Linked DNA regions of Homo sapiens. The protein of the gene in region 3 purifies or fractionates together with the protein of the main gene of each other region. This does not show direct contact. Each region holds a gene or a part of one and is shown on either strand. Other genes may lie near its edges.

Region 1 (3,648 bases), on a different chromosome or scaffold from region 3:
TATTTCTAAGAGTCTAAGAGGTTCAGAAAAGGTAGGAACACACAGGGGAGGTCAGGAGAATGTCAATAACTCCAGCAGAAGAGAAATGGGCTCCTGTTTCTGAAAGATAATGAAAATAGAAGACACTTTTCACTGAGGGTAAAGCCCTTTTAGCAGCTCTAGATTTAGCCACAGAAAAATCACTCACTTTATTAAAAAAAAAAATAAATGAAAAAAAACAAAACAAAACTCTTCAAGCTGGCATTTGGCAGCAAGACAATGCTGAGAACATTTTCTCAACTCGGCTGGGAAAACCCGGGAAAGAACACGTTGAGGAAAAGAGGGTAACACTCTTCCGATCTGTTGGGACTATGCCAGAGAAAATCAGGCAACAGATTAAAGAGGCTTGTCAGTCACCCCACTGGTTTCAGGGGCACATTACTCACTACCACCTCTATGCAATGAGTCACCCCTTGCAGAACCCGTCACAGCTCAAGTTTAATCAACCTCACAGCAGCGGGAAGGTGCATCACTCTGTCTTCCCATAAAAGATGGGCCACTGCGGCACCAAGGCATAGAGGAAGAGCTACAAGTTACACAGGTGAGAAGAGTATCAGGGACAGTGTCCATGGGAGGGGAGGAAAGAAGATTCCCAGGCAGAGGTATGTGAAGCCCACTGAGCCGTGGGCTCAGCCATGGTGATCTGGTCCCAGGGAAAGAGGTGGTCACTGAGGCATCATGAATTCAAGGAGCACCTTCTGCTGCTACTCCTCATGGTCAGGCTCCTCATCACTGTCCTCCCCCAGAGGAAATTCCTTCGTGGGCTTCTGGGTTGCATACATCCGGGTCTCCATGGGGCAGTCCTGACTCAGAATAGCCTGCAGAGAGAGGCAAGAAGAGAAGCCACTGCACATTATTATCATTTTTTTTTTTTTGAGACGGAGTCTCGCTCTGTTGCCCAGGCTGGAGTGCAGTGGCGCAATCTCGGCTCACTGCAAGCTCCGCCTCCCGGGTTCATGCCGTTCTCCTGCCTCAGCCTCCAGAGTAGCTGGAACTACAGGCGCCCATCACCACGCCAGGCTAATTTTTTGTATTTTTAGCAGAGACGGGGTTTCACCATGTTAGCCAGAATGGTCTCGATCTCCTGACCTCGTGATGCGCCCGCCTCAGCCTCCTAAAGTGCTGGGATTACAGGCGTGAGCCACCGCGCCCGGCCAACCACCGCACATCTTTTTTTTACCAATCTCCTCATTCCGTCCTCCCACTAGTTCTTCCAAGGCTGGCATTGCTAAGTACTCAAGAAACATGCATAGGACCCTCTGCATGTACATGCACCAGCCTCCCGGGGTACCTAGTATATCAACCCTTGTCAGGACAAGTATCTCATTTGCTTTTAACTGAATTTAACAGTGGTAGTGAAAGTTACAGCAGGAAGCCAAATGGAATCACCACCACTCCCTATCACACCTTCATGTCTTCTTTTGTTCCCTTGAGCAGCCTCTGTCGGTATCCCAAACCCATCAGGCCCTCAGGATGTTTGTGCTGCAGTAAGAGGAAAGTGCTTTATTAAAGAAAATCCTATGGTATGGATCTCTTCCCTGGGGTTTTTGTACTTTTAAAAACGTGACCTGCTGACCAACATGGATAAACCCCATCTCTACTAAAAATACAAAAAATTAGCCAGACATGGTGGTACATGCCTGTAATCCCAGCTACTTGGGATGCCAAGGCAGGAGAATCTCTTGAACCCGGGAGGCAGAGGTTGTGGTGAGCCGAGATCACACTATTACACTCCACCCTGGGCAACAAGAGTGAAACTCCATCAAAAAAAAAAAAAAAAAGTGACCTGGTAAGGATAATGTTGCACTAGAGTGAATGAGTGGATGAACGGATGTGCCAATGGAATTCTGCCCACTTATGAGGGAGTTAACTTGGTAACTCACATCTTGCTAGTAACTAGCAAGCTAAGAACAGTAACTACAGGATGTCTTTGATGGTCCTCTGCCCCCATTTCCCTTCTCTACTGAAGACCCTTCCTGATAGCCCCAGAAAGAGGGAAGTGGTTACTTAGAGAAGGGAAATTAAGGAAGTGCACAAAAGAAATATGAAGATGAAAGGGGATTGGGAAACATGGCAAAGCAGAGAGAGTATCAACAGAGCAATAGAGGGAGGAAATAACAGCCCAGGATGAAAGGGAATGAGAGAGATGATGGAAAGAAACAGAAGTGAATTTCTCTTTTAACAGTCGGTGCTCCTTACAAGCTTCTCTTCCTTTGCCGGGGGGCTCCGCAGGTAGTAGCAGAGTGGAGCATAGACGATGTTGATGACCCCAGTGATGACCATGAGCCAGGGAAAACCGATGGCCTTTACAATGGCACCACCGGTGGATGGACCTGGGAGGGATACATCAAAGTCATAAGTGTCTATGGAGCCTCCATATGGAGCATCCTCCACGTAGGACACTATGCTAGGGGCAGTGGGTGACCCAGAGGATGTCTCAGCGTCAAAGATCTCCAGAACCCTAGGAGGATAGCTTCCTGGCTGCACTTCCAGCTGGTAAAGAGTAGACAGGGGAAAGTGGGGCACCAGGTCCTGCCAACATACCTATAGCAAAGCCCATGCAAAAAGCCACATCAGCGATGGCGTAGACACTCCCATACACCGAGGTGTGGCGTAGATCCACCAGGTGCCCCATGATGGGCATCATAGAAGAATCCACCATGCCTGTGGCCAGAGCAAACAGGACACAGTCAGCCCCACCCACAGTTAGTACCACCCCGCCTCTCCTCCTCCATTTAGTCCATTTGCTTTGTCTGCTGTCTTCTGCCTCGGACTAACACCTGTTCCAGGTGGGAATTACGAGCTCATCTCTCCACAACCCTGCCAGCTGCCCTCCTGATCCTTCTGCCTCTGCACCTACCTCCTCTGATGAGAAAAGGGGGAGGAAAGGCATCAGACCCAAAGCCAACATGCAGGGGCTTATTGTTTTCTTTGAGGGCACTTCTTACCTATGGCAAGGCCAAGCCCTGCATTGGGGCCAATGAGACCAAAAATATTGTGAGCCAGAGGAACCTGCATGGGGAAGGAGGAAGAGTCATCAGGACTCCAGATGGGTCAGGTGGGAGCAAGGTTCAAAGAGTTTTCACATGAAATGCATTTATTCAGAGTGCACTATTGGCCACATACATCATCCTCCTGCACTCTCAGACTTTCTCATGGAAAAGAATCTATACCTCCATTTTAAGGATATGAAAACTTGACCAGCGCTGTTGTGTTTATTTATTGCTCTATCCAGAGTTACAGATCTAATGAGTGGCAAGATCAAGTTTGGACCTCAGACTTGGCTCCATTATGCTCTAACGAGGGTCTTCCTCTGTTCCATGGATACTTTCTCCCCTTCCTCTACCCCTCTTCACCTAAACATACACTCCTGGTCTCATTCTTCATGGAATAAAGTTGCCTCTGTTTTCCATTATGGACATCACTGAAAGGTTTCATTTAGACTTCTAACTTGGTAGCTGTTGGAAAAAGAAGATAGAGAAGAGGCCCCAACAACCAGTTAGCTGTAAGCTAGAGGGGGCAGGTGGTGTGGCTTGGGTCCCCTGTCAGGAAGCTTGTGAGACTCATTCCCATTGCCCTCCCAATCCCCCAACAAAAACCCCTTCTTCC
Region 2 (3,648 bases), on a different chromosome or scaffold from region 3:
TCTTTATCCCAGCCTCATCCCCACTTTCTAAAGCTAAAAACACAAGAAATAGTCCACCCTTTCCTCCCTCTTCCCTACGCTTCACAGCCAATTAACTGCCCAAGCCTAAAAACCCCTGACAATTCTTCCTGAGACATATTTTACCTCCATGTCCATCTCCTCTGCCACAGCCCTAGTTCCAGTCCCAATCATTTCTTCTGTAGCACGTTGCTACAGAACAACGAAGTCTGCTTTTTTGAGATGGAGTCTCACTCTGTCGCCCAGGCTGGAGTGCAGTGGCGTGATCAAGGTTCACCTCAACCTCCACCTCCTTGGTTCAAGCGATTCTCCTGCCTCAGCCTCCTGAGTAGCTGGGGTTACAGGCGCCCGCCACCACACCCGGCTAATTTTTCTATTTCTTTTTTTTTTTTTTTTTCCTGAGACGGAGTCTTGCTCTGTTGCCCAAGCTGGAGTGCAGTGACTACAATCTCGGCTCACTGCAAGCTCTGCCTCCCGGGTTCACGCCATTCTCCTGCCTCAGCCTCCTAAGTAGCTGGGACTACAGGCACCCGCCACCATGCTTGGCTAATTTTTTTGTATTTTTAGTAGAGACAGGGTTTCACCTTGTTAGCCAGGATGGTCTCAATCTCCTGACCTCGTGATCCGCCCACCTCAGCCTCCCAAATTGCTGGGATTACAGGTGTGAGCCACTGCGCCCGGCCTAATTTTTCTATTTCTAGTAGAGATGAGGTTTCACCATGTTGGCCAGGCTGGTCTCGAACTCCTGACCTCAGGTGATCCACCTGCCTTGACCTCTCAAAGTGCTGGGAATAGAGTCGTGAGCCACTGCGCCCAGCCACAGCAGCTTCTTTTTGACAGGGTCTCACTCTGTCACCAAGGCTGAAGTGCAGTGGCTCAAACACAGCTCACTGCAGCTTCGATCTCCGGGGCTCAATCAGTCCTCCCAAGTAGCTGGCTCTATAGGCACACGCCACTGCGCCCAGCTAATTTTTTTTTTTTTTTTTTGAGACAGAGTCTCGCTCTGTTGCCCAGGCCGGAGTGCAGTGGCGCAATCTCGGCTCACTGCAAGCTCCGCCTCCCGGGTTCACGCCATTCTCCTGCCGCAGCCTCCCCAGTTGCTGGGACTACAGGCGCCAGTCACCACGCCCGGCTAATTTTTTTGTATTTTTTTAGTAGATACCAGGTTTCACCGTGTTAGCCAGGATGGTCTCGATCTCCTGAACTCGTGATCCGCCTGCCTCGGCCTCCCAAAGTGCTAGGATTACAGGCATGAGCCACTGCTCCCGGCTATAGCGGCCTCTTAACTGAGCTTTCTGATGTTGGTCTTCCTCGACTTTAGCTCATTTTCCACCTTTCTCTGAAATAATAATAATTTTAATAAAATGATGACAACTGGCCAGGCATGGTGGCTTACACCTGCAATCCCAGCAGTTTGGGAGGCCAAGGTGGGCGGATTGCTTGACCCCAGGAATTTGAGATCAGCCTGGGCAACATAGTGAGACCCTGTCTTTACAAAAAATACAAAATGTAGCCTGGCATGTTGGTGCACACCTGTAGTCCCAGCTACCTGGGATGCTGAGGTGGGAGGATCTCCTGAGCCCAGGAGGTGGAGGTTGCAGAAAGCCGAGATCTCACCACTGTCCTTCAGCCTGGGCAACAGAGTGAGACCCTGACTCAAAAAAATGACAGCTTTGCCACTCCTATACTCACCAACCTCCTCTTGTATGGGTGCTGCTGACTCTGCTCTTTGGTAGTGTCCCAACAGCCCTTTACTCTAGCCTTGCCCACCTTTCCAGGTTCCTGACCTACCCCTCCTATCAGCCACCCCCACTTCAGGCATATTCACCTCTCAACCATTCTCTGAACACAGCTTACCTTTTCAGGCCCAACTCCTTTGTACCAGCCATTTCTGTCAATCTGCCTGATATGATCATCCCTCTGCCCATTGCTTCATGGTTTTGTACCCCCATCAACTCAGTCCAGGCATCAGCTGGTAAAGCCTTCCCTGAATCTCCATGGCCGGGCGCGGTGGCTCACGCCTGTAATCCCAGCACTTTGGGAGGCCGAGACGGGCGGATCATGAGGTCAGGAGATCAAGACCATCCTGGCTAACATGGTGAAGCCCCGTCTCTACTAAAAATACAAAAAAAATTAGCCGGGCGTGGTGGCGGGCGCCTGTAGTCCCAGCTACTCAGGAGGATGAGGCAGGAGAATGGCATGAACCTGGGAGGCGGAGGTTGCAGTGAGCCGAGGTCTCGCCACTACACTCCAGCCTGGGTGACAGAGCGAGAGACTCTGTCTCAAAAAATAAAATTAAAAAATAAATAAATAAATTAATTAATTAATTAATTAAAAAAGCCTCCCCTGAATCTCCCAGCTCTAGGTGCCCAGAGCACTTAGACAGGCTTCTCATTTCTCTGACAAGTCCCGCACAGGTTTATTTACTTCTCTGACTCTTCTACTAAGTGGTAAGCTCCTTGGGAGCAACAACTGAGTCCCATCAGCTCTGGATCCTCAAAACCTGGCATGCAGTGCCTATGAAAATGTTCTTTAAAATGTTCTTGGAGGGGCCAGGCACGGTGGCTCACGCTTGTAATCCCAGCACTTTGGGAGGCCGAGGTAGACAGATCACTTGAGGTCAGGAGTTCGAGACCAGCCTGGCCAACATGGTGAAATCCTGTCTTTACTAAGAATACAAAAATTAGCCGGGCATGGTGGCGGGCACCTGTAATCCCAGCTACTCTGGAGGCTGAGACAGGAGAATCACTTGAACCTGGGAGGCAGAGGTTGCAGTGAGCCGAGATCACGCCACTGCACTCCAGCCTGGGCGACAAGAGCGAGCCTCTGTCTCAAAAAAAAAGTTATTGGAGGACTAGAGGTTTTTTCAAGCTCAAAATGGAGCCTAGCATCACATTTAAAGATGGAGAAACAAAGATCAGGGTGCTGGGGAGGAAGCTGACTTGGCTGGAGAAGATACACTGGAGTGCACATTGGGGTGGGCAGAGCAGGTGTGGATATTCACCCTGTGAAATGCAGGGACAGGTTCAGGGACTTGCCCAAGGACATGTGGTGAGTAAGTGGCAAGGTTAAGATTCAAACCCAGTTCTCCTACCTCCCACTGTACAGTCTTCAGAACTTTTTAAAGGATAAGAACCAAATGAGAGGATGCACTTCTATAGTGCGCACTATGTGCTGGGCACCATTGCAGTTTACAAATTTTAACTTATTTAATCCTTCTGATAATGCTATGTGGTAGGTACAACCTTTCACCCACATTTTATAGGTGAGGAAACTGAAGTACAGAGATGTTGAGTAACTTGTCCAAGGTCACAGATAAGAAATAGCAACTGGGCATGGTGGCTTATGCCTGTAATCCCAGCATTTTGGGAGGCTGAGGCGGGAGGATCACTTGAGACCAGGAATTCAAGACCAGCCTGGGCTACACAGTGAGACTCTGTGTATAGAAAAAAGAAAAATTAGCCAGATGTGGTGGCACACACCTGTAGTCCTAGCTACTCAGGAGGCTGAGGTGGGAGGATTGCTAGAGTCCAGGAGATGGAGGCTGCAGTGAGCCAAGATCACGTCACTGAATTCCAATCTGGGCAACAGAGTGAGAACCTGTCTCAAAAAAAAAGAGAAATAGTCAGG
Region 3 (3,648 bases):
TTGGAATGATCCACACGTTTAGTGCTGTTCAGAGAGAGTGCAACAAGGCGGTTGGCCAAGAAGGTGAAGAGAGGGTGCACCCTGCTCATGCTCTCCCTGTGCCACAAGGTCAACGCCATCCAGGACAGCCCCGTTATGCAGGCAGATGAGGAGACTGAGGCTCAGGTACATGAAGGGACTCACACAGGACACACAGCCAAGAAGCTGGGAGGCTAAGCTCATCCCCAGACCCCACTATCCCCAAGCTGTGAGCCTGAAGCCTTGGCCTGGTGCAGGCTCTCCCTGCATTGGATCTGCCGCCTCATGTGTCCCCACTGTGACCAAGCCCTCCCATACCTGCTGTGGGCCCCTCTGTGGGTGGCCTCCAGCCTGGGCTCCAAACCTCTCCCTTCCTGCCCTGCTGGGCATGCTCCCGCCTCCTGTGAGACTCACTTGTAGTCGCGCTCCCAGAACTTGAGGGGCCGAGCGTAGGACATGATGAAGACGGCACTGCCTAGCAGTGGGTTGAGAGGCGTGGAGAAGAGCCCCGAGAGCAGGGCCTGGACGAACAGCATGGCCGAGTCTGAGCCACAGTCAAGGAGGCGGCGGGCAACAGGACCTCCCAGCCCCCCACCACCCCCCACTGCCCCAGGCCACAGCCCTCCCTGCACACCCCCACCCAAACACAGGCTGGATACGTGGCACGGCAAACGGCTGGGCAAAAGCGTGGAAAGCCGAGCCCCAGGTGATCTGCCAGGGCGCGATGTAGGTCAGCACGAAACGCAGCTTGTACAGCAAGTCCCACAGCTGGCAGGGCCAACAGGGAGAAGAAAAAAGACATGCAGGGTCACTCATGGAAGCCCCCGGATGCCAGGCCCCATTCAGAGGCTTGGGTCATCGCACTGGCTTGGCCCACGGGGGCCAAACTCAAGGTCACTGCCAGCCCTTGTGCTCTGGACATGGCTCAAGGCGCCTGATGCCATTAGCAACCCCTGCCTGAGCTCAAAGGGGGCGGTGGCCATTTAGTTCACACAAGTACCCTGTGAGCTTCTTATTCCTATTGCTGGCCCCTTTTCACAGATGGGAAAGTTGAGGTTCAGTGAAGACAGAGAAGATAAATGACTTCCTCAGGTCACGCCACTAGGTCACTGGTGAGGCTGAAGCTAGACTATAGTACTGAAAATTGAGAACAGCCACAGGCCCTGCCCTCAGAGGGTACGCAGTGTGGATGACCGCCATCCTGGGCCAGGCCAGAAAACAAGAACAGAATGCCCACGTGAGGAAGAAAAAGGCTCAGGCCTGCCTGGGGTTCCAGGTACCACTGCTGGCCTCCAGTAGAGTGTAGGAGCATGGTTCCTTAGTTCAAAGAGCCCCCCAAGCCGTGGCAATGCCACAGCCGGCAGAGCACCTATACACACCCAGGCACTAGGGGCTTCTGAAACTCAGCTCGGACTGCTCTGGATCCAGGGTGGCAAAAGAGCGTGGAACTCAGAGGTCTGCGTCCAGAGGATAAGGCCAGGTCCTGATTACCCTAACCATTTCTGAGGAGGTGGTCGTGGGGTCAGACAGGCCTGGGTTCAAATCCTGGCTGACCACCAATTCTCTGGAAGCCTGAGGCAAGTCCCTCAACCTCCTTCAGCCTGCTTCCTCTCTGTAGAGGGTGGAAGTAACCCCTTCCTTGAGAGGCTGCTGCAAAGGCCCACGGGGCTGATACAGAGCGGTGGCCACAGGCCCTCAGGAAATTCTCTTCCCACCCAGGCAGAAGTTGGCTCTGCTCCCATTGGACAGCCTGGGGTCTGGGCCACAGCCACCAACTCACCTTGCTGCAAAGCAGGGACATGAGGAAGTAGTCAAGCAGAAAGCCCTGGGAGAGGCGCGGGTAGTCAAAGTGGAAGAGCAGGACGGTGAAGGCCAACGTCAGGTACTGCTGTGGGGGGCAGCAGAAGGCTGAGCGCAGCAGCTTCAGCCCAGCCACGGTCATCAGCAGCGCCCGGCAGCTGTGGGCAAGGGGCAGGCATCGGGTGCTTGGTAGGGGACCGGGGCAGTGGGTATAGGTGTCCCATCCCTCGCCTACTCTGGCCGGAGAGCAACCCCTGGCCTCTGCTCTGCTGGGCTGGTCCCTGCTCTTTTGGGCCCGTGACTCTTAGTCTCTGCTCTTCCAAAGGGAGTGGTGGGAACACATTTGCCTTTGAAGAAGCAACCACTTCCTGGGATGGCGTGTCAGGAGCTGGGGTCCTGCTTTAGCTTGCTAAACAACCTTAGACATGATTCATTCCCTCTCTAGGCCTCAGTTTCCCCACGGATCAAAAGGGAAAGCGGATGATGGGATCGTTGAGGGTGGGGTGGTCCTCACTAGAAGCAGTACTTGTCCGGGTGGCTGACGACTGTGTGGGCGTCCACCGTGAGGGCGTTGAGCACCACGGCGGGGTAGATGAGGTACTTCTCTACGCACTGCAGGCCAGCATACAGCTTCTCAAACCACATCACCTGGGCGGCACCTGTGTGGAGAGGCCAGGACTCTGCACCTGGCTTCCACATGCCTGCCTTCCCTGAGGAAGTCCTTCCCTAGGAGGGCAGGCTGTGCGGTCCTGACTCCTCGGAGACCCTGGGGGGAGGGGCTGATCTGTGGCAGCTCAAATGGGAGCAGCGAGCCCCAGCAGGGCAAGGGCTCCACATGGCACTTAGCACATCGAGGCTTGCTTTATGGCAGGTGCTCTGCTCTGCTGTCTGTTAAAACAAGGCCAATGATGAAATCGCAAACACCTACGTACAGCAGGCTGGCTAGGGCCTGAGTGCACAGTGAGCCCGTGAGCTGGGCCCTTCTAAAGGGCAGACCCCTCGGTTCAGGCTGGTTGTAGCCACAGAGGGATGCTAGTCTGGGAAGCAAAATCTTCTGTCGTTTAAGAAAAACTCAAGAAACATGGATCTTCATATCTCAAATCGAGATGCTAAAATAGAGGCTCCAGGATTTTTTAAAAACCATTATGCAGCCCAGTGAAGATGTGCTCCAGGCAGCTCTGGTCCACTGGTGATCAGTGTTTAATTCTGGACAAGAGATCCCTTCAGGGCCCTGGGGTTCTAATTCTTCCGTCTTCTCACAGACAGGAAGGAGGGCAGGACCAGGGCAACACAGGCAAGGGAAGGGCACAGCAGGGCACGAGGAGAAGAGTCGGTGGAGAGCGCAGCCGGGCAACACGGACACAGAGGGCAGGGAGGGAGCAGAAAGGGTAGTGTGGGCAGCGAGTGCCCCCTGCTGGCACTCCTGAGCCGAGAGGACCACAGCTCCCACCAGCCAGGCTGCAGCCCGAGCCACTGCCCAGGCCTGGCCATCAGGGGTGGGCACTCACCGCGCACTTCATACTGGCTGTACTCCAGCGGCTTCAGCACGGGCTGTGACAGGCAGAACCAGGGCAGCTGTTTGCGGAGTTGTGGCAGCAGGTAATGTGTGAAGAAGCCCACGGCCCCAGCCAGTGCGTACAACACGAAACCCAGCACCGACTGCAGGAGGGAGAGGCCAGAGACTCAGCTGATGGGAGCAGGCCAAGGGACCACAGAGGGCCACCTGGCACAGGCCGGGGAGGGGCTGCCCACGGCACTCAGATTGAGCAGGCTCCCGCCAAGACAGCGAGAGGCAGCAGCGGCCCATGCCACACAAACCTTCAGGGCAAT

Evidence for each region.
Region 1: the proteins of PCNX3 (region 3) and SLC18A1 purify together in Homo sapiens (co-immunoprecipitation; one large-scale study listed by IntAct). This does not show direct contact.
Region 2: the proteins of PCNX3 (region 3) and SYT11 purify together in Homo sapiens (co-immunoprecipitation; one large-scale study listed by IntAct). This does not show direct contact.

What each region holds. Positions count from the first base shown.
Region 1 is NC_000008.11:20,145,020-20,148,667, forward strand, and holds part of SLC18A1 (chromaffin granule amine transporter), read right to left. Parts: intron 3,052-3,648; coding exon 2,988-3,051; intron 2,704-2,987; coding exon 2,584-2,703; intron 2,373-2,583; coding exon 2,239-2,372; intron 858-2,238; coding exon 744-857; 3' UTR 1-743.
Region 2 is NC_000001.11:155,876,567-155,880,214, forward strand, and holds part of SYT11 (synaptotagmin-11), read left to right. Parts: intron 1-3,648. UniProt on the Homo sapiens protein: Synaptotagmin family member involved in vesicular and membrane trafficking which does not bind Ca(2+). Inhibits clathrin-mediated and bulk endocytosis, functions to ensure precision in vesicle retrieval.
Region 3 is NC_000011.10:65,625,733-65,629,380, reverse strand, and holds part of PCNX3 (pecanex-like protein 3), read right to left. Parts: coding exon 3,637-3,648; intron 3,478-3,636; coding exon 3,327-3,477; intron 2,707-3,326; coding exon of another isoform or gene 2,681-2,706; exon of another isoform or gene 2,484-2,680; intron 2,478-2,483; coding exon 2,333-2,477; intron 1,977-2,332; coding exon 1,799-1,976; intron 787-1,798; coding exon 678-786; intron 563-677; coding exon 433-562; intron 25-432; coding exon 1-24.